Linked DNA regions of Homo sapiens: regions 1 and 2 are each linked to region 3. Evidence: fine-mapped expression QTL. A gene starts in region 3. Each other region holds a variant in brackets. All regions are shown on one strand. Distances are between the middles of the regions.

What was found. PIP is the estimated chance that this variant, and not a neighbour inherited with it, causes the effect.
Region 1: its variant is fine-mapped to the expression of PLD6 in lung (GTEx, PIP above 0.99).
Region 2: its variant is fine-mapped to the expression of PLD6 in Th1 cells (Schmiedel 2018, PIP 0.95). The same link has a PIP of 0.9 or more in Th1/17 cells.

The regions. Positions count from the first base shown.
Region 1 is chr17:16,999,870-17,008,045 of GRCh38, forward strand. No RefSeq gene overlaps it. Among named protein-coding and RNA genes, the nearest start is that of LINC02090, 16 kb to the left of the region's middle. RefSeq lists an enhancer at 4,865-5,393. The variant G/A (reference allele first, on the strand shown) is at 3,095.
Region 2 is chr17:17,147,011-17,155,186 of GRCh38, forward strand. MPRIP (myosin phosphatase Rho interacting protein) reads left to right here. Exons shown (of 24, transcript NM_001364716.4): 11 at 309-377; 12 at 3,134-3,223; 13 at 7,296-7,405. Among named protein-coding and RNA genes, the nearest start is that of PLD6, 55 kb to the right of the region's middle. RefSeq lists an enhancer at 3,331-3,410. The variant C/G (reference allele first, on the strand shown) is at 4,627.
Region 3 is chr17:17,202,800-17,210,943 of GRCh38, forward strand. PLD6 (phospholipase D family member 6) reads right to left here and starts at 3,534. Exons shown (of 2, transcript NM_178836.4): 1 at 3,061-3,534; 2 at 1-299. The coding sequence starts at 3,487. RefSeq lists enhancers at 2,553-2,672, 3,728-4,567 and silencers at 3,193-3,312, 3,333-3,382, 3,503-3,752, 3,793-3,842.

The sequences.
Region 1 (8,176 bases), 200 kb before region 3:
CACTGGAACATTGCTTTAGACACTTCCACGTGCCTGTGACCCTGCTGGGTGGCAGAACACAGCCCAGAGCTGCCAAAAGATGTCCCCCACCCCCGCCTCCTTGATCTCACCTGGGCGTGTTACTAGTGGATCCTAACCCTGGAAGCCATTGCAAGGGAACCTGGAAATGTAGCCTTCAGCTTCCCAGTCCCTGCTGGTCAGGAAGGCACAGGAGGAGGAGGTGGAAATGAGTGTGGAGGGCCACATATCAGGCCAAAGCAGCAGGCACTCAGAACACAGCGGCCTAGAAGCAGGGTACAGGAAGGGATGCCCCTCAGCCACACCAGCCTTCAGGGCCCCAGGCAGGCTCCCTCCTGCCAAAGGTCTTTGTGTATGTTGTTCCTGCCTTATCAAGTGTTCCTCCCTATCCTCTCTGCCTCCACATAGCAAGGTAACTTCCACTCAGCCAAAAACTATCACTGTCCAGCACAGCCCAAATATCCATAAACAGAAAACATCAACAAATGACAGTATATTCATACAATGAAATACTATACAGCAATGAAAAAGAATCACCGACGACCACATACAACAATATGGGAGGATCTCACAGATGTCATTGTTGAGTGAAGAAGCCGGACTCAAAAGAGCACCATTCACAAACCTCCATTACTAGGAAGCTCAAAAAGAAGCAGAATTAATCTATGGCACAAGGGTAGAGAAGAATGGTTACTTCTCGGGGGGTGGGGGGAGTGTTGGATGGGAGGGGACAAAGGAGCCCTCTAGGGGCTGGGCACGAACTTGGTCTTCTCCAGTTTGGTCTGGGGGCTGAGCCTGAGGCACCCATGGGTAAAACTTCATCAAGCTGAACACTTAAACTGTGCACTCTTCCTATGATGAAAAAGTAAAAATAAAACAGACCCCTTTCTCTGAGAAGCCTTTTCCCAGACTAGAGCACCTTCCCCAGGATGAGCTGCCAGGGTTCTGTGCACCCCTCCTGCCAGGCTATTGTCGTGCTGTGACGGTCTGTTTCCCTGTGGGATGGTGAGGTGGTCTGCTCCCCCAGACAGTAAGCTCCATGCAGGAAGTCTCTCTGTCTTTCCAGGGCCTGTATGTCCAGTGCTCAGATCTTAAGCATCTGCTGCAAGCGTGGGTGACCCCCATCGTGGAACAAGCCCACTCTCTGGCAACAGCAATGTGAACCTTCTGCTTGTAATGTAAATGTGAAACCCAGGGCCAGTAAGAGATTCCTCAGATTTGCTGTGCAGCCATGGAAGGCAGGTTTTTCAAACAGAAACTCTTCTTCCTAAAAATATTCGATGTTCAAATCTTTTCTCTGCAAAAAAGACGGAGGAGGAAGAAGTGAAGTTGCTGTGCGTGAGCCCACCTGGAGGGCAGCAGCCCAGGAAGGGCCAAGGGACTGACAGCGACAGCTCAAGCATTGCAGCACCTGGGCCTCCTGCTCTCCCAAGCCAGCAGGATTTTCACTGACTCCCAGATGGCAGAGCCAAGCCAGTGAGAGACAGATGTTGGCTCAAGTGGTTTTGAGAGCTGATGAGTTCCCTGTCCCTGGAAGTGTGCAAGTAGAGACTAAAGGACCACTCCTGAGAAATATTGTGAGACAAGCAGGGGTTGGGACTGGAAGGATGGCCCTTGGAGGACCTCAGAGACCCAGGCCTCTTGTGTCTGTGTCCTTTTGGAACTCTTGGTCTTCGCCGAGGGAGGGATGCCCTCCAGGCTGCCTGGGACCACATAAGGTCTTGGGAGACAGGAGCAGCAGTAGCAGCTTCGTGTATGAAGGTGCTCCCAGTGCTGGGCACTGTAGGGAGGGCTATCCTACCACATCCTCTCAGCGAAGGGCTTTTGTAGAGTATGGTTAAGAATGCAGATCTGCAGTGGGTCACGCCTGCAATCCCAGCACTTGGGGAGGCTGAGACAGGAGGATGGCTTGAGCCCGGGAGTTCGAGGCTGCCTACCCCCTGCACCCCAGCCTGAATGACAGAGCGAAGAGAAATCCTGTTGTCTCTTTATTTGAAAAAAATTTTTAAGTAGGTTCTGGAGCCGGAATGTTGCAGAGAACCAGGCGCCGGCGCCTCCCAATGGTCACCAGCAGGTGGCGCCGCTGACCTAGGTGCTGGGCCCCTCGGCACCCCTCGTTCTGGGTGGCGCTGGGAGGAGCCAGTTTGGGCGGAGAGGAGCCCTGGGCCGCCTACCCTGGACTGAAGTCAGGTGTTGAGCACGGGTGGACCCGGCTTCTTTACCTTCCTGAGGCCTTGGTCGAGGGGCTGGCTGCCCGCCCTGTGCAGAGGACTTTGTCCCTGGGGTGGGTGGGTGCAATAAATGTCAGGGCTCTGACCCAGGGACAGAGGGGCACAGAGGGTAAAGGGTCCCTCACTCTCCCCTGGCAGCGGCCGCTTGTCACAGTCTAGGAAAATATCCAGAGACTGTGCCGGGTGGGGGGTTTTGCAAACCAGTCCAGTGGGTCGAAACCAGTCCAGCCGCCCCACTGAACAGATTCTGCAGTGGGTCACACCTGCAATCCCAGCGCTTGGAGAGGCTGAGGCAGGAGGATGGCTTGAGCCCAGGAGTTCGAGGCTGCCTGCCCCCTGCACCCCAGCCTGAATGACAGAGCCAAGCAAGACCCTGTTGTCTCTTTATTTAAAAAAAAAAAAAAAATTATTTTTTGTTTGAGACAGATTCTCGCTCTGTTGCCCAGGCTGGAGTACAGTGGCGCGATCTCGGCTCACTGCAAGCTCCGCCTCCCAGGTTCACGCCATTCTCCTGCCTCAGCCTCCCGAGTAGATGGGGAAAAAAAAAAAACTTTTTTAAGGTAGGTTCTGGAGCCCGACTGTCTGGCCCAACTCCAGCTTTGCCACTGTCTCGGGCAGGGCTCAGAATCAGACCCCAGAACAAGGATTCCAGAGCAAGTGCTTGGCTGGGGAGATGCAGGAAGCCCCAGGGGAGGGCACGAGAGGCAGGGAAGGGAAGAAGCCAGTAAAGTATGTGTTATCAAGGCAGTTACCAGGGAAGCACCAGGCTCCCTGCTGTGGGGAGCCCTGGGAGACAGCGTGGAGCAGGCCCCAGAGGTTGCCCCGCTGAGGAGCAAGGGGCTGGA[G/A]TAGTTGTCCGCCACCCCCACAGCCACTGTTGGCTGAGACCCTCTCCTGGGACAGGGACTCTCCAGGCCTCCAGCGGTGGAACTTGCCCGTCCTTGCAGCTGGGAGAAGCAGCCCAAGGATCCTGCTCAGGCGTCCCAGGCTTAGACGTGAAGAGGCGAGTCCTGCATGGGGAGGGTGGGTGACTGATGGATGGGACACCAGCTGTGTCCTCTGCGGCCACTGGGCAGCTGTGTGACCTCAGGCAATTGCTCAGCCTCTCTGTGTCTTCTCATCCTCCTTTGGTAGGAGGCTGCCTAGGCCCAGTGAAGGTAGAGGGCCTAGAACTGCGCCTGACACAGCACTACGCATGCCAGGATCTCAGGAGCCCAAGAGGTAGTCCTGTCACACCCCGTTTCACAGAGGAGGATGTGGAGGTCAGAGTGGCTAAGACAACTGCTCAATGCCACTGGGCACCAGAGGGCAGATGGGGCTTGGGGGACCCTGATCCCACACTCACAGGACCCCTGTCCAGTGCGCTCCTGTGGGTAGATCAAGGCAAGGCTGCCTCTAGGACCACCTCCCTCTTGCCCCGCACCAGCCAGGCATCCTCTGGGCAGGGACCATGGCAACACGGCCCCCACCTGTGGCCGGGCCTTCTGGGTCCTCTCCAGGAGGTGTCTAGGCACCACGCTGTGGCATCAGCATCACACACAATGCTGAGATGAAAAGTCTTACGCAGGTGTCTTCGCACACCTGAGCAAACATTTCTACAGGAATAATTTCCCCCAGCGGGATTCTTGGATCAAAGGGAAGCACACATGATTATTCTAGAAGTTGACAGCCATTGTCCAATTGACACCCTCACCCACAGGGCTCTTTCCCCACATCCTTGGCAATACCAGGTCCTTGTTTTTAAATCTGTGCCGACCCGATGGGCAGAGAGTGGCACCTTGTCATGCTGTCTCCTGCCTGTTTGATCCAGGATTTTGTGGACCGTGGGTTTGGCAGCTGCTGGCACTTCTTCTGCACGTTCCCTTTTTGTGTCCTTTTCCAGATTGCTATTTCTTTGGGGCTTTTTTCTTAGTGATTTGTAGGGTGCTTTAAAATAAAATCTTCTGTCTGCCATGGTCTGTAGGTGACAAATATTTCTTCTCAGCTAATTGTTTTATTTTCAGCCATGTTGGTGGGGACTTTGTGATTGTTTTGTTTTTTGTGATTGGTCTTTGGAAGTTGCTCATGTTTGTGTAATCGGATTTGTCATTCTTTTCCTTTGTCATTTCAGAGTTTGTGTCAGGAATTCTTCCCTCTTCAACCCATTCCTCCACCTCCCTCCGCAGACTGGCCGGTGTTCTCTCTAGATCTGCCTCTCCCTCCATGCCATGCTCTCGGGCCCTTCGTGGTGAAGCCAGGTGGCCGTCCTCCTGCCCCTGCCCCTGAAGGAGAAAGCTCCAAGACCTGCTGTATTCATGTCCCCTTCCTGGAGGCCCACCTTCACGTGCCCACCTACCTCCTCAGCATGCCTGAGCCCCTATCGCTTTCCTCTCGCAGCAGCCTCAGGTGCAGAGCCCGGGGACTCTGGTCTGACACCGATGGCTTCTTAACTACAATCAGCACACCTGCTGCTCACCACCCTTGGCCAGGCCAAGCCACAGCCAGGCCCAGCCCTGGATTCGAGATTGTTATTTCTGCAAAATGGATCATCCAGGCATCTCTGGCTTGTCTCTGGCCCCCCCGCACCCCTCCACCACGCCCCTGGGCTGCTGCTGCTGATGTCTCCTTCCTGCCTACATCGGACCCAGTTCCCCCATGTTCATCCCTGGGGCTGGGCCACCTGCTGCTCCCCCTGGCTCATCCACTGCCCGTTACCAAGCCGCACACAGCTCATCGACCTACAGCCACACTTGTCACACCTCCTTGCAGACCACGAGTCCAGAGAAGCACGTGATGCAACCTCCCACACCTGACTCTTTTACAAACCAACAGGCCACTGGGAGGCTGCTCTCCTTGTCTCTGGGGTGGCAGCAGGGGAAGCAGGAGAATGAACAGCCTCCAAAACTTCTCCTCAGACGGAGCCGCCATGGAGGAACAAAGGGTCACCATCAACAAAGTCCATTTAGCCCAATCAGCCTCCTGCCCAGCAAACCAGGGAGGCATGCTCTGCCCTCAGCCCTCAGGTCCCAGGGGCCCGGCCCTGGCAGCCTCTTTGTTATTCCTGGCTCCCGGGACCAGGACTCTCAGGGTGCCCATGCCAGGGAGGCCTGCATGGCCGGGAGCAGGTATTTCCTTCTGTGCCCTCTGCGGGCTCAGGAAGACCCCACCCTGCAGGTGGCAGGAAGGGGCTGTGTTGAGCAAGGGGCCCAGCAGCTGGAGTGGGCCTGGGTCTAACTCTCCACTCCTGTTTGCATTGGCAAAGCACCGCAGCTGACACGGGCTGCGGGAGCACCACGCTCAGAGGAGCCGGCGACGGCTGTTTCCCAGCTGCTGTGCAATTTGCTGAGTTCAACACACATGTATTGACTGCCCACTGTGTTTTCTGTGCTCACTTGGAAATTCTGTTGAGCGCCTACTATGTGCTAGGCACTTGTCTGTGTGCTGGGGATATGGCCTGGGGCAAAGGTGTCAGTTCAGCTCCCCTGGGAAGTAGACAACAGGTTGGAGTTAGAGATACAAGAACTGTGTTAGGAGAAGGAGCTGTAAAGGAGAAAGGGGCGAGGGGCAGAGCAGTCAGGGAGAGCATGGAGCGCACCAAGCACAATGCTTGTGAAGGAGAGGGGCCACTGGAGAGCTGGGCGGGGGAGCCTCACCCGGCCCCAGGGGGTCTCTGGAGCAAAGATGGCCAGTACTGGGGTCCCAGGTTGGGCAGGATGATTTGAATGTGGCGGAAGATCCCCAAGTAGCTGGAGGCTGTCAGCTGACTGCACTTCTTGCAGAGGCTTCTCTCTTGAAGGCCGACCTGAGAAGAGCACCTCCATGGTGGCCACGGGAGATTAAATGCAGCTGCCATCCTGTGGAGGGGATGGACAACACACCAAGCAGCAACTGCACCCCCTTCTAGAACAGAGGCCCCAAATGACAGTGCTTCAAGAGAGGTGGGAGCTGGCTGTGCACAGTGGCTCATGCCTGTAATCCCAGAGCTATGGGAGGCCGAGGTGGGAGGCTCACTTGAGGCCAGGAGTTCAAGGCCTGCCTGGGCAACATAACGAGACCCCATTTCTACAAAAAATACCAAAAAAAAATTCAGCTGGACATGGTGGCATGTGGCTATAGTCCCAGCTACTCAGAAAGCTGAGGTGGGAGGATTGCTAGAGCCCAGGCTAGGCTGCAGTGAGCTATGATGGTGCCACTGTACTGCAGCCTGGGTGACAGAGTGAGACCCAGTCTCTTAAAAAAAAAAAAAAAATTATTAAGGGGAGGGCAAGCCCTTTTCCATACTTTCTTAACCCTGCTGTTTAGGATGTGGACATGATGGTGCACTGTCTTGAGCTACATGGACAAGAGAAACACCCTAGGGATGGGAGAGAGAAGGGTGGATCCCTGAATAACTGCATGGAGCAGAGTTGCCACCGCAGCCCTGAACTGCCCTGCCACCCCTAGACAGTGTGCTGGAGAAATGAACCTCTGTCTTGTTAAAGCCACTGTTGTTAGACGTAGCTAAACCTAGATCCTAAATACAAACATAGCATGTTCTTTTTTTTTTTTTTTTTTTTTCCTGAGGCGGAGTCTCACTCTTCGCCCAGGCTGGACTGCAATGGCACAATCTCGGCTCACTGCAACCTCCACCTCCCAGGTTGAAGCAATTCTCCCACCTCAGCCTCCCAAGTAGCTGGTATTACAGGCGTGCGCCACCACGCCTGGCTAATTTTTGTATTTTTAGTAGAGACGGGGTTTCACCACATTGGCCAGACTGCTCTCGAACTCCTGACCTCAAGTAATCCGCCTGTCTCAGCCTCCCAAAGTGCTGGGGTTCCAGCCACTGCACCCCTCCACACATAGCGTGTTCTTTTTGTCCACATAAAACTTACCATCTTGACCATCGTGAAATGCACAGTTCAGTGGCACTAAGCACAGTCTCATTGTTGTGCAACCATTACCATCGTCCATCTCAAGAACTTTTTCGCCGGGTGCGGTGGCTCACGCCTGTAATCTCAATGCTTTGGGAGGCCAAGGTGGGCAGATCACAAGGTCAGGAGATCGAGGCCATCCTGGCTAACACGGTGAAACCCCGTCTCTGCTAAAAATACAAAAAATTAGGCGGGCGTGGTGGCGGGCGCCTGTAGTCCCAGCTACTCAGACGCTGAGGCAGGAGAATGGCGTGAACCCAGGAGGCGGAGCTTGCAGTGAGCCGAGATAGGGCCACTGCACTCTAGCCTGGGCGACAGAGCGAGACTCCGTCTCTTAAAAAAAAAAAAAAAGAACTTTTTCATCTTCCTCAAATTGAAACTGTCTCCAATGAACAGTAAACAGTAACTCCCCATTCCCCTTCCCTTAGCTCGTATAAGTGGAATCATATAGAGTTTGTCTTTTCACGGAATATTACGCCCTCACGTTCTTCCATATTGTAGCATGTGCCAGAATTTCCTTCCTTTGTAAGACTGAATAATATTTCATTGTACGCACAGACCACATTTTTGTTTATCGATGGTCATTTGGGTGGCTTCCACCTTTTCGTTGTTGTAAAGAATGCTGCTATAGTGAGCTGAGATCACGCCACTGCGCTCCAGCCTAGGCAACAGAGTGAGACTCCGTCTCAAAAAAAAAAGAATGCTGCTATAAACATGGGTGAACAAACATCTGTTGGAGACCCTGATCTCAATTATTTTTGGGGTATTTTTTGGTATATACCCAAAAGCGGAATTACTAGATTATATGGTAATTCTGCACAGTGACTTTTCCACTAGTGTTTAACATGGTGTCTTGACAGAATAGCTGTAAGATTACACTGAAAAAGCAGCAGGGGAAGTGCTGTGAAGGCGGCCCATGAGCTTGTAGGAAAGGCGGTCAGCAGCACACCTCCACTGTAATGGGTTTGTTTACCCGCTAGCCTACCAACAGCTGCAGGCCCCTTTCCTGGCCCTGGCCCTGCCCCTGCCCCACATTGCTCC
Region 2 (8,176 bases), 56 kb before region 3:
GGACCGCACGGCCTGGCCACCAGCCACACCATTGGTCATAGAGCCCACAGCCAAGGCCTGCTCAGCTGTCTGTGCTGCCTCTTCACTGGAGGGTCACAGCTTAGTGAGCGTCCTGAGGGTGTGAGCGCATGGCTGCCTGCAGTCCGAGCAGAGTCCTCTGTATGCTGTCAAGGGAGGGGCCAGCCTGTCCCCTGCTTTCCCTGTGCTCTGGGAGGGCCCCACAGGCTCTGGCTGCGCACCGCCGTGGCGTGGCAGGCATGCTGTATAGGAGTTGGTAGTCGAGTCATTTTTCTTTTCTTCCCCTTTAGTGGAAGAAACACTGGTTTGTCCTCGCCGATCAAAGCCTGAGATACTACAGGGATTCAGTGGCTGAGGAGGTGAGTGTCTGGGCTTTGCCTCTGCTGTGGAGACAGCTGGAGGGGTCCAGGCGGCATCTGGGGCTAGTAGATCTGCTTCCCCCTGGGCTAATGTCCCCACTTCTGAGGACAGCGCCCTTCGGTGGTGTTACCTTGCCGAAGGTATGTCCATGTTGCCCTCTTGGGTTTCCCAGTCCCGACCTGGTGGGAAGGTGAGCACAAGACCAGCCTTTGTCCTTGTGATCATTTTCCTGGCTGTGATGCTGGGCTTCGTCAAGGCCTTGAATTAAGTGCCCAGTGCAGTGGGTTTGGGCAGCTTTTCTTTTCTCTGTTCTTTGAAAAACACTGAAATTTGAAAACTCAGGATGAACAATTTTGTTTTTTCCACAAAGAGATTTCATGGTAAATGGAGTTGGAAGAATTGAACTACATCTTGTGCCCTGCCTTCTGGACAAGGACAGGATAGGATAGATGAGCTTTTTTGGGCCCCTGGACAGTCCTGATTCTGTGGTCAAGGACCAAATAGAAGGGGTTCTTTTTTTCTTCACCTACAAATAAAATAACCTCTTCTAAACAGTTTGGCAAGTCTCCTTTGCCTTTTCCCCAGTAGTTTCACTCCAGGAATCCCTCAGATAACTCCCACATGTGGAAAAACGTCTGTTTCAGGTTAGTCATTCCCACACGTTTGTAACAGCCAGATGATTGGAAAGAGCCTAAATACCCATCATTAAGGGCCGGGATATGTATTAAATACTCTGAGCCAGTCTTTACAGACTGAAGGAGAAAAGGTGGTAGTGATAAGAAGTAGGGGTAGGAGAGTGTGGGCGGTGGGCCTCTGGTGGTGTCCAGCGTTGGGGAAGTAAGGAGCCTATGTAAGTGTTTGGTTGCATGTGCATAGAAGAGCACTTCCGAGTGTGGTCTGTAGACCTCTGGGGGTCCCTGAGGCCCTTTCAGGAGAGCAGTGGTGGTTAAAATAATTTGTAATATTAAGATGTCATTGACTTTTTTTTGCGTGTGACCATCTGCACTGATGGTGCAAAAGCAATGGGAGGTAAAGCCACTAGCACTTGGCACAGCCCCATCTGTAGCAACAGGCTGGACCAGTGGTCACTGGATTCTTCACTGCCATACATTTTAAATAATTAATCGTTTTAAAATAAATAAGGTCCTTGAAAGAGCAGCAGAAGTTACTAATTTTATGAAGCCTCAATCTTTAAATGCCCATCTTTTTAATATTCTGTGATTTGAAATGGGAAGTAAGCATCGCCTGGCTGCATACTAGAGTGTGCAGGCTTTCTCATGGAAAGGACTTGTGTGATTGAGTTGCCAGCTGAACTAGCAGCTTCTTTTGGAGCACCACGTTTACTTGAAAAACAACTGATAGGCAAAACTGTGGTCATTAATTTTGGGTGTTTGGCATATATTTTCATGAAAATGAACCAAGTTGGCTCATTCCTCTAAGGAAAACAACTGACAGAATTTGTTGCCAGTGATATAATTTGAGCTTCCAAGCAAAAATTAGAACTTGGGAAAATTTGTATTCACCATCATGAACTTCCCTTTACTTACACTCTCCTGATGAAATAGGTGGTGGTATTAGCAAAGGCGATATTTTAATATTACATAATGAAATGTGTAGACAATTGGAAGCTGTGCATAACAATATTTTCCATGTGACCAGTACCTAATGTTACAAAAGCATGCCTGGGTTTTAATGTAACACAGTACAGAGAGTTCATGGGCATGATTTCAGATACCACATTGCAGTTAACCTTTAAGAGCCTACTGCTTGTCAAAGAACAGCCACAACTACCTGAAAAAGCTATTAAAAATACTTCCTTTGTTGTCCGGGGGCGGTGGCTCATGCCTGTAATCCCAGCACTTTGGAGGCCAAGGCAGGCGGATCACCTGAGGTCAGGAGTTTGAGACCAGCCTAGCCAACATGGTGAAACCCTGTCTCTACTAAAAATACAAAAATTAGCTGGGCTTGGTGGTGGTCATCTGTAGTCCCAGCTACTCGGGAGACTGAGGCAAGAGAATCACTTGAACCCGGGAGGCAGAGGTTGCAGTGAGCTGAAATCGTGTCACTGCACTTCAGCCTGAGTGACAGAGCAAGACCCCATCTCAAAAAAAAAAAAAACTTCCGTATTGAACAGATGGAATGCAGAAACAAGAATCCAGCTGTCCTTTCTGAAGACAGATGTTAGAGAGATTTGCAAAAATTCAAAGCAATGTGACTCTTATCACTGATTGTTAAATCAGATTTTTATTTTAAAATGAATTTATTTTATTCTCAAATGAACAAATATATTTAAATTTTACATTTATATTAATATATATTTTCATATATATTTAAATGTATAAAATATATTTTATAATATATTTTAAAATATATTTAAATATTTTTAAATTAAAATTTTTAAAATATTTACATTTTAATTTCTAACATAGTAAATACCATCAATAGATGAAATCCACCTAACAGAAGCTCTTCTAGGGCCACCAGTTTTTAAGAGTGTGAAGGGATTTCAACAGCAGCATGTTTGAGGACCACTGGCGTGGACTATCTTTGGCTGGATACAGGGACAGATGGTGGTGTGATTGCACCCAGTGAGGGGCCTGGGTCATGCAGTAGTAGGATAGACGGTGTCCTCACTTGTCAGTGTGTATACTATTAAAAGTAAAGTCAGTGCAGAAAATCACTTACGGAAATTTGCTCATCTAGGCATTGGTTCTACTTCCTAAAAATCTCAAGACATTCTCACTTCCCTCGGCAGGCAGCCGACTTGGATGGAGAAATTGACTTGTCCGCATGTTACGATGTCACAGAGTATCCAGTTCAGAGAAACTATGGCTTCCAGATACATGTGAGTCCAGGGATGGAAGTGGGGCCACAGGCTTGACAGGCAGGGATGCATGTCAGAGTGCCTAATGTCTGGGCTGGGGGCACTTCTGGACAGGCCTGATGCAGCGTGTATGGTCAGCACTTAGTCTTTCCCACTACCCTTGACACCTCTGTCCTGTGGCACCTGACCCTATTCCCCAATTTGTGATGTGAACAGTACATTAGACGTTAGTATCTTTTTTCTGAAGACTGCTTAAAGCTTTTTTGTTTCTGAAGGTTCCTTTTTTCTTTTGTTTTTTGTAATGCTGGAGTTGGGGCAATTGGAAGGATGTGGGGTATGGGGAATAAGAATGAAAGTGTTAGTCAATTATTTACATCCGCTTTTTACTCACTTATTCATGTGTTTGTTCATTCATTTACTTACAAGGCTATTTTTTCCCAAAATCTTGTGAGGTACTCAGATGAGCAAGGCATTGCACTGTTCTCAAAAAAAAAAAAAAAAAAAAAATCTTATTGGTAGGACAAAATGGTTCTTATTGGCTGTTTCTTCAAAACTGTGTGGATCAAGGACTGCCTGCAGTCAGCCAGACTCCAGGTTAAGAGCACAGTCCTCCTGACTGCCACATCTGCCTCCATTTCTTTTTTTTTCCCCCAAGACAGGGTCTCACTCTCTGTCCAGGCTTGAGTGTAGTGGCACAATCATGGCTCACTGCAGGCTCGAAATCCTAGACTCTAACGATCCTTCTACCTCAGCCTCCAGAGTAACTGGGACTACAGGTGCATGCCACCATGCCCAGCTTATTATTATTATTATTATTATTATTATTATTATCATTATTTAGAGAGACAGGGTTTCACCATGTTGCCCAGGAGGGTTTTGAACCCCTGGGCTCCAGCGATCCACTTGCCTTGGCTTCCCAAAGTGCTGGGATTATAGGCATGAATCACTGTGCCCAGTCCTGCCCCCACTTCTGACACCAGTTGTGAGTCCGGAGGTTTCCAAAACCACCTTCAGTTTCAAAAATTCACTAGAATGACTCACAGGATTCAGGAAAGTACTGTCTTTACAATGAGTTTTATTATAGAGAAAGTATGTAAGTCAGAACCAGCCAAGGGAGAGCCATGTGGAGTAGAATCTGGGACTGGGGGAGTCACAGATGCCAAAAGTTTCTGCATCCTTGGGGACACGGTGTCCTCTTAGCCCTGATGTGGGGCAGTGCGCAGAGCATTGCCCGGAAGCCCACCTGAGCCCCGGTGTTGAGTTTTAGGAGGCTCTGTAGCTGCTGTGGTTGATGGAGTTGTTGTCCTCATAGTTGAACTCCACCTAAAGCCCTTCCCGCCATGGTTGGCTACTTTCACATGGCCCAAACCCCAACCCTCTGATTTAATGGGTTTCCTCTAATTTCCTGCTTCTGGCCAGGCCAG[C/G]CTCTACCCTGAGTTGTCTTGTCAGCATGAAGTGTTAGGTGGGGTCCCAGGGTACCACCATGAGTAACAAAGACTCTAGTCATTCAGGAAATTCCAAGGTTTGGAAGTTACCTCCCAGGAGCTAGGACAGAGGCCAGGCCTCTCTTTGGGTAAAGTTAGTTCGTCACTCGCAAGGGCTTTAAGATGGGTGGAGAGTGTGATGAGTAGAGAGCTGCCCCCATGGGGCTGGGCCCTGGCCCTGGGACTTGGTTCTCACACAAGGCTAGACTCTGGTGGGCTCACCTGTAGCAGGGTCATACCTTCAAATTTTGGGGCCCAGAAACTCAATTTTATTGCTGTGTTGAGAGTTGATCCAGTATTTGGGGCTCACTCAGTTTGGCCCAACTTAGAGGAGACTGAAGTATAGACCCAAAGGCCAGTGTGTTCATTTACTAAGAAAATCCTGGCCGCCAGCCCACTGGGCTGCTGGCTGTGGCTTCCTGCGTGCAGGCATCTGCGAGAGGAGCTGAGTCACAGTTGGAGGCTACACTGACAGCCTGGCACCAGGGCCGGGTGTGAGTTGTCTGCTCTTAGTGGCCTGCACTGCCCAAGTTTCAAGGCTCCTCTGTCCTCATCCGCTGTGGGAGGGGTAGGCGGGCATAGTGCCCGGTGAGCCTCCTCTCCTGCCGTCCACCTCCCATCTTCATGAGCAGCTTTCTCCAGGCAGGGCACACCTGAAGTCTGAGAACTCACCCCGCTCTCCTAGTGACAAATGAGGGCATCAGCCACTCTCACCCACTGATCAACCCCTCCTCACTTCACCCTGGTAGGGCTTATCCTGATGACTTTCGGTGATCCCCAACTACTGAGAGTTCTAAGGAATGAGGAGATGCTTCCAGTGTGGAGAAGGCTTCCTGGGGGAGGCTTCCTGGAGAAGGATCCCTCAAGGCTCAGCAGGAGGGATGAGTGTGAAAGCATGTCCCAGACTGGACTCCAGACCTGGTGGCACAGAGAGCACAGAGCCAGTCTGGGGCTAGAGTGCTGGGTGGAGAGTCAGGTTGGCGCTGGTCCAGCCTTTGTGGAGAGCACTGAAGGGTGTTAGAAGATGCCAGTCAGTTGTGCGTTCATGATACATGTCTGGCGGGACATGCAGGTCCATTAGAAAGGAACCAGGCTGGCACGGTAAAGCTGGGCAAGAAAGGAAGGAGCAGCACCTGGGAGGAAGAGGTGAGGGCAGGGCCAGGACCTGGCAAGAAGGCCCCGCCCACTGAGAAGCCAGCAGAAGAGCTGACTTCACAGAAGCAGGGGGATCCCCTGGAATTCCGGCTGTGATCCATTTGAGGCATGATGGGCTCTCAGAGAACATTAGGCAGCCGCTGGGAAAGAAAATTCAGCTGGAGAAAACAGCTGTATGTGGAGTGCTGAGGCCAAACTCCAGCAACGCCCACACCTGGGGGTGGAGAAGGATGGACCCAGGAGAAGGTGGTACCCCCCCAACTCAGCTCACATGGATATGAGAACTGATGAAGGAGGACCGAGCTGGGCAGTGGTGGTGTCTTGATCGGGCATGTGGAGGGGCAGGTCAGGTCCCTCCCAGCTGTGCTTTGTGGCACGTCAGGCCGGTGCGTGATCTCCTGTTTTGGCTTCTGGCCAGGCCACTAGCACCCATCCGAAAACCATCCTCATGATTGCATCCTGCCGTCAGCTTCCCTACTGACCTGGCTGCTGAGTCTGCTTGTGAGCAGCTCTCGGTTCAAGGCTGCAGCCCTCGCTTCTGTTGGGCAGGTGCCTGTAGGTGCAGAAGCAGGCCTCCAGCTCCATGCAGGCCACTGGCCCTCCCCTGCCTGGTACCCAGGCAGGTCTGCTCAGGGGCGCAGTGGTCATGTCCCAGAGCCATGTGCTCTTTGCTGCTTTGTCCTACCTGCTGCCCCGTTCCTCGCCCAAAACAGGCTCCTCCCCTGCTACCTTGCACAAGCACCGAGGACAAGCCCTAGACTCCACCTCATCCAAGCAGGAGTCTAGGGCTTGTCTAGGTGCTCCCCAACCCAACCAGCCAGACGCTGTTCATACCCCTTTTGTTACTTCTGAGCTGCCCTGTCCCCTGCCATCACCTTAATTCTCATCACTTGGACAGCTGCAGTAACCACCCAGCAGGTCTCCCTGCCTTTTCTCAGTGCCACCAACAAGACCCTGATACCCCTTGTTCTTAACCACTCCCTGGGCCCATCATGCCATGTGCCTGTGTGAGTGCAGACTGCAGGTGCCACTCCCCACGCCCAACACACACGCCCTTCCGGATTCCCCACCTCCACCACTGCTCAGCACATGCTGATTCTGCCCTTCCCCCGAGGCTGGGAACTCCTTAAAGAGGGGTGCAGCATCCTCCTCTGTCTGAGTGGACAGGCTGCTGGTGCGTAGTGGGTGCTCAGTAACTGTGAGCTTGTTACTGAGAGAAGATACCGGATTTACCATTGCCACAAATACACGTCCCTCCCACAGCTTTGACGTCTCCTGCTCTCCAGCTCCCTCATGTCCCAGTAGTGGGCACATGTGGCACTCCTAGAAGGGTCACCCAGTCACAGCCTTTCTCCCTGTGGGACTTTACCCAGTGCAGGGAGCTTCTTTGGAGATGGAGGGCAGCAGGCACCCTAGGGGACAGTCACTGATGGTGCCTCATCTTTTCTCTGTAGACAAAGGAGGGCGAGTTTACCCTGTCGGCCATGACATCTGGGATTCGGCGGAACTGGATCCAGACCATCATGAAGCACGTGCACCCGACCACTGCCCCGGATGTGACCAGGTAGGATGGTGAAGACACCAGGGAGCCCTTTGTGCCTCTTGTGGGTGCCACTCCCGCCAGGGCAGTGTCAGACTCAGGTCTGAAGTCTGAGACCTGAGCTCAGTGCATCCCAGTCTGCTGCTCCTTCCTTCCTGTGTCCTTCTGTTGCTCAGGTTCCTGTCCCAAGTAATCAGAACAAACATTTCTGGTTCTTTTCTCTTGTAAGCCCAAGCGTTTCATCTTGCAGGTAGCATGTGTGCTGGTCATTAGAACTGGGCTTTGGTGGAGAATCTTCCATCTGTGTCAGCAGGCACTTGGCCAGACCAGCCTGAGCCCCGCAGTCGGTGCTCTCAGGCCTTGGGCTCTGCTGCTCTAAGGGTGGCCCCATGTGCGGCATCCATAGGCCACCCAGTGCTTCTTTGTCTTGGCCTTCTTTTCACCTCACTCCTACGTCTGTTTGATTTCTGTGCAGCCAATTTGAAAAACCCTCTCCTGTTTTTGCATTCTGTGGTTCATGTGTCTCAGATTTTGCTTTGGGCTTTTTTCCTCCTGCCCTGAAGGTTAAAGACCTAGTTCTCATTTTAAAAGATGGAGAATCAGAAGACTCAGACATATCTAAAACAAAACAAAACAAAAAAAGCAGAGAAGATTCCAGTGTGGGGGCTGGTCCTTTGATGGCCAGAACTCTGCTGTCCCCACCTTCAGAGCCTCCACGCATCTGAGCACCTCTGGTGCCATTTCTCAGGTCATGTGATGTAGATTACATCTCGAATGTGTTTCTTGTGCTGTGGG
Region 3 (8,144 bases):
TCTGTGCCATGAAAGCAATCTCCCTCCAGCTCTGGAGACAGGTGGGGCACAGCTTCCGTGACTTTTCTTTGGTGGGAAAAAGGTATACTTTGTAGGGTTAAACTGTTCCCAGATGCGCTCAAATTCTTCCAGAAAAAGCCGCACGTACTCGTCGTCCTCCGTGATGAGAACATTCTCCCTGTTGTTCTGGATGGCTTGCGTGGTCCAGTTGAGCGAGCCAGTGATGAGCACCCTCTTGTCCACGATGGCAAACTTGTGATGCATGTAGCCTGGGTCTTGATCGTGCCGGACCTGGATCCCTGCAGAAAGGACAAGGTGATTTCATTCCATGCAGGAGTCCCGCCCCCAGTGTGGACTGTTCCTGGGGGCTACTGGCTTTACTATATGTTTCCAGTTTGGTGGGCCAGGAAAGCCCGCCATGCTTTCACAGAGTGGTGGCGGCTAAGCTCCCAGGAGGGACGCTGAGAACCACAGAGGGGACATCACACACAGGGCCAGAGCGTCACACACAGGCTATGGGGGACTGGGCAGGCCGTGGTCTGGGTGAGGCCACACCTCCGAGTCTATGCCAGCCAGTATGTCCCTTCGGGGTTACTGCTTGCTGCCAAGGCTGTCACTAACCCAGTCAGAGGTGACCAGGGCAAAGACAGCGTGTGAGCCTTCAGGTTCTGACTCTTCCACAGCTAAGGCTGAGAGCGTGCCCACTCTGCCCAGAGAGGCCCCGGCGTCTGAGAGCAGAGCCCAATTTGCTGGCACAACCTCGGCCACCAAGGCAGGAAGGGCCCTAACTAACAACGCACAAATGAATTCTCCTCTTCCGCACCCCCCTGCTTCCTTCACCAAAGAACCAGGCATCCCGGCCTCTGCTCTTCCCAGCTTTCAAACTCCTCTTGGGAAGGGCCTGTGTCTGTCTCCCCTGGAATAACACTGCCTCACTCACGACCTGCTTAAGGAATGAGGCCGTCAGAAATGGGGCTTAAAAGAAGTTTTAAACAGGCTGCCATGGAACACAGTTGCCAGATTTTCCGAATCAAAATACAGAACATCCAAGTTAAATGGAATTTCAGATAAAGAGTAATCTTTGAAGGGAAGTGTGTCCCATGGAGTACTGGGAACATACCCTAAAAATCACTCCCTGTGCATGGAACTCATATTTAATTGTGCCCCCTAAATTGGGCCTGGCAGGATGAAGACGTGGTGGCTTCCTTACCTCGAGGAGCCAGCCCTTCTTCTCACACTCTGGCCACTCCTCTGGCACGTCCTGTCGGCACAGCCCTCCAAACACATTCCTCCACACGGTGGGCAATGTAAAACCCCACCATCGCCCACACCTCCTGCCTCCGCTGGGATCCACTGCCCACCTCCCCGTCCCCTCCCCGCGGCCTGCCACCTCTGGCCACAGGGGACTTCCTGCCCTTCCTCAAAAGGAAGTCAGTCTGTGACCCAGGGCGACTGTGCTGCTGCCCCTTCCAGCCGCATGCCTCTCCCTCCGAACAGTCCACTGGTGTCAGCAAGGTCCCTGCCCTGAGTGTCACTGCCCCTGGGCAGCTGACCTGGCCCACGCCACTTCCTCCCACACCACTGCCTCCTTACCCTGCTTTATGAAGTTTTCTTGGCCCTTCTCAGTGCCCTAAATGAAATATTCATGACTTAGTTGGCATCTCCGTGGCAACCTGGCCTTGTGCCCTTGTGCCCTAGGATGTTCCAGCTCCTCACAAATACTGGCACAGAGGGGACATTCCTTGAACAGTGAATGCCACTGGACAGCCTCGAAGTCAGCGAGGATGCTGGGAGGCCATCCCAGAGGGGATCCGATGGGACCTTGGTCTAGGGGCCCTTGAAGGGTCTTCACCAACCTCAGCTTCTACGACTGTAAAAGCAACTCAAACAGAACTGTACTGTGCATGCCTGGAGGTCCCCAAACCTCCCGTTAAAATGACCAACACATGGGAGGACAGCTCTTGTGGCTGCCCCAAAGAGAAGGAGACATCCTCAATATGAAAACCACGTGCCCCACTCTGCTCCCACATGGCGTGCAACATGCCCCACACCACCCAGAGCAGGGAGGGACCCTGGCTGACTCTGGAGAGGCTGCTCTGAGGCCCAAGTCAACAAGAGGCTATGGCTGTGCAGAAGGAACAGCGCGGCGGTGACCACTGCCCAGCCTGGACAATTCCCAGGGCTCCACACATCTCTCGGTCACTGCGACCACCAGTATTATCAGATCCAACCGTTGCACGTGCAGGCGTGACTTTCTGGGTGCCTGAGTGATGGAGACAGAGACAGGCCCAAGAGTCTGTGAGTGCAGATACACAAAAGGCAACAGCAGGCTGGGCCGCCGAACTGGGCCAGGATGGACTGAGAATCCTCAGGTGGGACAAGGATCCCAATTATTCACATTTCCTGGTCCCTTCTGTCCCCACCCCATGAGAGAGGCGCCCCCGCCAGAAATATGTGTTCCCCTCCTTTTGCAGCTGGGAAAACAACCGAATGTCCTGGCGCTGCTTTCTAGAACATGTTCAGGTCTCCCAGAGCCCAGTGGCCTGAGATTCACTGGGCAGCAGGTGGCCGCCTCTCCCCAGAGCCCTTCAGTCTGGAAGTCCAAGCACAACCCTGGCGTCCAGCTCCCCTGCCACCAGGATCCAGGTTACCAGAGGCCGTCCGGGGATCTCCGGCAGCGTAGGAGGGCGGGCCCGGGCTGCAGCAGTCACGAAAACTCCGCCGGCGGCGCCCGAGGAGTTGCTAGGGGAATCTGCTCCGCCTCTAACCCGGCACACGCAGGCCCACCTGCTTCCAGCATGCCGGGACAGTTCACTGAGAGAACCGCCCCCACCGCGGAGGCACCGAGGGTCCGGCTCGCTTATGCCCACGCAGCCGGCTAGACCTTCTGTGGGGGCTCTGCTTTCTCCGCGTTACACCACCCCGACCCCACAAGGCCACGAGGAAAGTAAATGAGGCCTCAGCCCGTCCCCAGACCCCCTCCCCTAAGTGTCCACCTTTGCGCCTAGGACCCCGCGTGGGCCAAGCCGGCCTTCTCCGCTTGGACCCCGCCGGGCCTACCTGCCTTGCGCAGCAGACCGATTTGCGAGCCGTTGAGGGCCATGTAGTCGCAGTCGGTGACGACCCGCACTCGCACCCCACGCTGGTGCAGCAACTGCACGGCGCGGCCCAGCTGCGGGCTGGAGAAGGCGAACAGGCAGAGATCCAGGCTGGCGCGGGCGGCCAGCAGGGCACGCAGCAGGCGGCTTAGCGCGCTCTCGCCGTGGGGCAGGCCGCACGGGCAGCCCTCGGGGAGCTCGGCCAGCTCCGCGCCCGGAGCCCGCAGCAGGGCCTCGGTACAGGTCACCTGAGACGGGAAGAACAGCGCCTCGCGCCGCGGCCGCCGCCGCCTGGACCGCAGCCAGCGCAGCACCCAAGGCAGCGCCTCCAGAGTCAGAGCCAGGCCCACAGCCGCCGCGGCCGCCACCTGCCAACTCAACCGTCCCATGCCGCCGCTAATCCGGGACCCACAGCCACGCCGCCGCAGCGGAGTCTGCGCGCCCCCAGCCCTAGACCGCCAGGCCACGCCCCCGTCACGCGCCGCCAGCGGCCATGTGCCAGGCCACGCCCAGCCCCCCATGGCCACGCGCCAGGCCACGCCCTATCACGTCCTGCCAATTGCCACGCACCAGGCCACGCCCCCGTCACGCAGCGCCAACGGCCACGTGCCAGGCCACGTGCCAGGCCACGCCCAGCACCCATGGCCACACGCCAGGCCACGCCCCCGTCACGCCCCACCAACGGCCACGTGCAAGGTCACGCCCTCAGCCCCCGAGGGCCACGCGCTAGGCCGCGCCATGCCCCCACAACTGTCACGCACCAAGCTGAACCCACGCCTCCCATCAGCCCGCCCCCAACCCTCAACAGGTGACCACGCCTCCCTCCACGCGCCAGGCCACGCCCCCTGCCACAGACACCCTCCACCCCCCAACGCCAGGCTGTGCCCCCCATTTTCCTTCCAGCCAGGCGCTCGGCCACGCCCTCCAGGTTCCACCTCCCACCACGTGCCAAGCCACGTCCCCAAGCCCGCGCCACCAGGCAGCACCTGCACACCCGCGGGCCACGGGCCCTAGCACACCCGTCACCTGCCCAGGCCAGAGACCGCTCTCCGCGCTAGAAGCCACAGCAACCCCGGCTTTCCTCGCATGGAGCACAGCAGAGCTGCTCTGGAAATGTGGGGTCACACCTTCACTGTCTTCTCGGGAGCAGCTAGGCTGGGCTGGGGAATGACCTGGGAACACAGATAATCAGGGAATCAACACAGCTGGAGGCAGCATTGGAACCCAGCATACTGGAGGCGGTGTCGGCCCAGAGGTTTTTTCCTAGCCCAAGAGGTTTTTTCCAGCCGGCGTTGTTGGAAGGCCTGCCCTGCTTTAAGCATAAACAGAGGAAGAGACTAAGGCAGCCGAGGGCACTGGGCCGGGGGCATAGGGAAACGGGGCAATGTGGTGGTCTGGGCTGGATCCTGGAACCGAAAGAAGACATTCACGGAAAAACTGGTGAGAGCCAAATAAAGTCTGGAGCTTAATCGCATTGTACCAATGTCAGTTTCTTAGCTTTGACAAATGTATGAAAGGAATGTAAAAGGTTAACAAAGGAAGCTGCGTGGGGGTAAATGGATCTCTCTGTTCTATATTCGAAACTTTTCTGTAAAGCAAATTATTCTAAATTAAAAGTTTATTAAAATATTAAACTTGCACCTTCCATATGATCCAGCTATCCCACTCCTAGGAGAAAGGGCGGGATCCATTAACACAAGCACGTGTCCTGGCAGGCGTATGTGCCTAGAACAACCCAAAAAGGCGTCAGCAGGTAAACAGGTAAATAAGCTTTTGTATATCTGTACAAGGGAATGCTATTTAGCAATAAAATAGAATGAAGTGGCCTGGCACGGTGGTTCATGCCTGTTATCCCAGAACTTTGGGAGGCTGAGGCAGGAGGACAGCTTGAGTTCGGGAATTCGAAACCAGCTTGGCCAACATGGTGAAACACTGTCTCTACCAAAAAATACAAAAATTAGCTGAGTGCGCTGACGTGCCTGTGATCCCAGCTACTCGGGAGGCTGAGGTGGGAGAATCGCTTGAGCTCTGGAGACTAAGGTTGCAGTGAGCCAAGATCATGCCATTGCACTCCAGCCTGGGTGACACAGCAAGACCCTATCCCCCCCCCACCAAAAAAAAAAAAAAACAGTACTCACATGTGCTACGACGTGGATGAATTTCATTAATATTGAGTGGGAAAAGCCAGACAAAAAGAGTACATACTGTATGATTCCATTTACATAAAATTCTAGAAAATGCAAACTAGATTGAGGGAAAGCAGACCAGTGTAGCCTGGAGGCCAACAAAGCCACAAGGAAGTGGAGTGATGGATGTGTGCTTATCGGGTTGACTGTGGTGGTTTCACAGGTATATACATATGTCAAATTGTATGGTGTAAATAACTAAAAATGTATGTCAGTGATTATGTCAATAAAATTCTTTTTTTTTTTTTTAAGACGGAGCCTCGTTCTTTCGCCCAGGCTGGTGTGCAGTGGTGCGATCTCGGCTCACTGCAACCTCTGCCTCCGGGGTTCAAGTGAGTCTCTGCGTCAGCCTCCCGAGCAGCTGGGATTACAGGCGCCCACCACCACACCCGGCTAATTTTTGTATTTTTAGTAGAGATGGGGTTTCACCATCTTGGCCGTGCTGGTCTCGAACTCCTGACCTCGTGATCCACCTGCCTCGGCCTCCCAAAGTGCTGGGATTACAGGCGTGAGCCACCGCACCCGGCCTTCTTTTTTTTTTTTTTGAGATGAAGTCTCGCTCTGTCGCCCAGTCTGGAGTGCAGTGGCACGATCTCGGCTCACTGCAACCTTCACCTCCTGGGTTCAAGCAATTCTCCTGCCTCAGCCTCCCAAGTAGCTGGGACTACAAATGCACACCACCACATCGGCTAAATTTTTGTTTTTGTATTTTTAGTAGAGACGGGGTTTCATCGTGTTAGCTAGGATGGTCTCGATCGCCTGACCTCGTGATCAGCCTGCCTCGGCCTCCCAAAGTGCTGGAATTACAGGTGTGAGCCACCGTGCCTGGCGAATAAAATTCTTAACAAAGAAAAAGAACACTTGAGTTTAGTGCTGGCTCCCAGGCTTCCTAGCTGCATGGTCTAGGGCAAATTGATTCATCTCTTCTGAGCTTCACTTTCCTCATCTAAAACGATAATGAGAGGAGGGACTTGGAGTTGTGGAGGTATAAAGAAGGACTCAAATCCCTCCAGAGAGGGATAAACAAAAATAAAACTGGGGGAAAACAGTTTTCAAAAACAGCCACTTCAGGGCTGGAAATCTACCAAAGGCAGACAACAAAATGAGAAGCTTTATTTGATTTTTATTTATTTTTTGTCTTCCAGTTTCTATTTTTAACTTTGTCGGTATATAGTAGGTATATATATTTATCGGGTACATGAGATATTTTGGTACAGACATGCAATTTGTAATAATCACATCAGGGTAAACAGGATATCCATCACCTTAAGCATTTATCCTCTTTTGTGTTACAACATTTAGTTATTAGTTTATTTATTTATTTATTTATTTGAGACGGAGTCTTGCTCTGTTGCCCAGGCTGGAGTGCAGTGGTGCGATCTCAGCTCACTTTGCAAGCTCTGCCTCCCAGGTTCACGCCATTCTCCTGCCTCAGCCTCCCAAGTAGCTGGGACTACAGGTGCCCGCCACCACGCCCAGCTAATTTTTCGTATTTTTAGTAGAGATGGGGTTTCACTATGTTAGCCAGGATGGTCTCGATCTCCTGACCTCACTATCTGCCCTCCTCGGCCTCCCAAAGTGCTGGGATTACAGGCGTGAGCCACCGTGCCCGGCCTAGTTTTTTATTCATTTATTTTTCAGATGGAGTCTTGCTCTGTCAGCAGTGACGTGATCTTGGCTCACGGCAACCTCCGTCTCCCAGATTCAAGCAATTCTCCTGCCTCAGCCTCCAGAGTAGCTGGGATTACAGGCACCCACCACCACGCCCGGCTAATTTTTGTATGTTTAGTGGAGACGGGGTTTCACCATGTTGGCCAGGCTGGTCTCGAACACCTCACATCAGGTGATCCGCCCACCTTGGCCTCCCAAAGTGCTGGGATTACAGGTGTGAGCCACCGTGCCTGGCCGTTTGTGTTTATTTTTTATTTTTTGAGACAGAGTCTCGCTTTGCTGCCCAGACAGGAGTGCCATGGGGCCATCTCAGCTCACTGCAACCTCCACCTCCCTGGTTCAAGCGATTCTCCTGCCTCAGCCTCCTGAGCAGCTGGGATTACAGGTGCCTGACACCACGCCTAGCTAATTTTTGTACTTTTAGTAGAGATGGGAGTTCACCATGTTGGCCAGGCTGGTCTCGAACACCTGACCTCAGGTGATCCGCCCACCTTGGCCTCCCAAAGTGCTGGGATTACAGGTGTGAGCCACAGTGCCTGGCTATAATAACCATTTTAATATGTGTGTGTATGTCATTAACATCATGTCGTATACCTTAAATATATACAATTTATTTTTTAAAAGCTTATACAAACTATATTATCAGATAAGGGGTTAATTTCCACAATATATAAGAGCTCAAGTGATTCTCCTGCCTCAGCCTCCTGAGTAGCTGGGACTACAGGCGTACACCACCAGCCTGGCTAATTTTTTTTTTTGTATTTTTAGTAGAGACGGGGTTTCACCATGTTGGCCAGGCTGGTATCAAACTCCTGGGCTCAGGTGATCCTCCTGCCTCGGCCTCCCAAAGTGCTGGGATTACAGGCGTGAGCCACCATGCCCGGCCCTGAGTGTAAGTATCTTGAATGTAAAATCAGGAAACCCTTGACTGCCTTCAAACACATGGGGAAGGTTCAAGATCTGGAACTTGTTTTCTGTCTCTTCCATTTTGTGAAAAGCTACAAAATCAGGAACCCCTATTCCCTCACAAGGACAGCAGAGTCTGGCCTGGTCTTGGGCTGGCATAGGTTCAGCTCAGCCTCCTGCTCTTCTGCACTCATGACCAATAGGAAAAATCTTCAAGAACTGCATGCCTGTGGGGAGAAAAAGCCCACAGCTGCCTAGAAACACCAGTTGGCAGCTGGGTGCG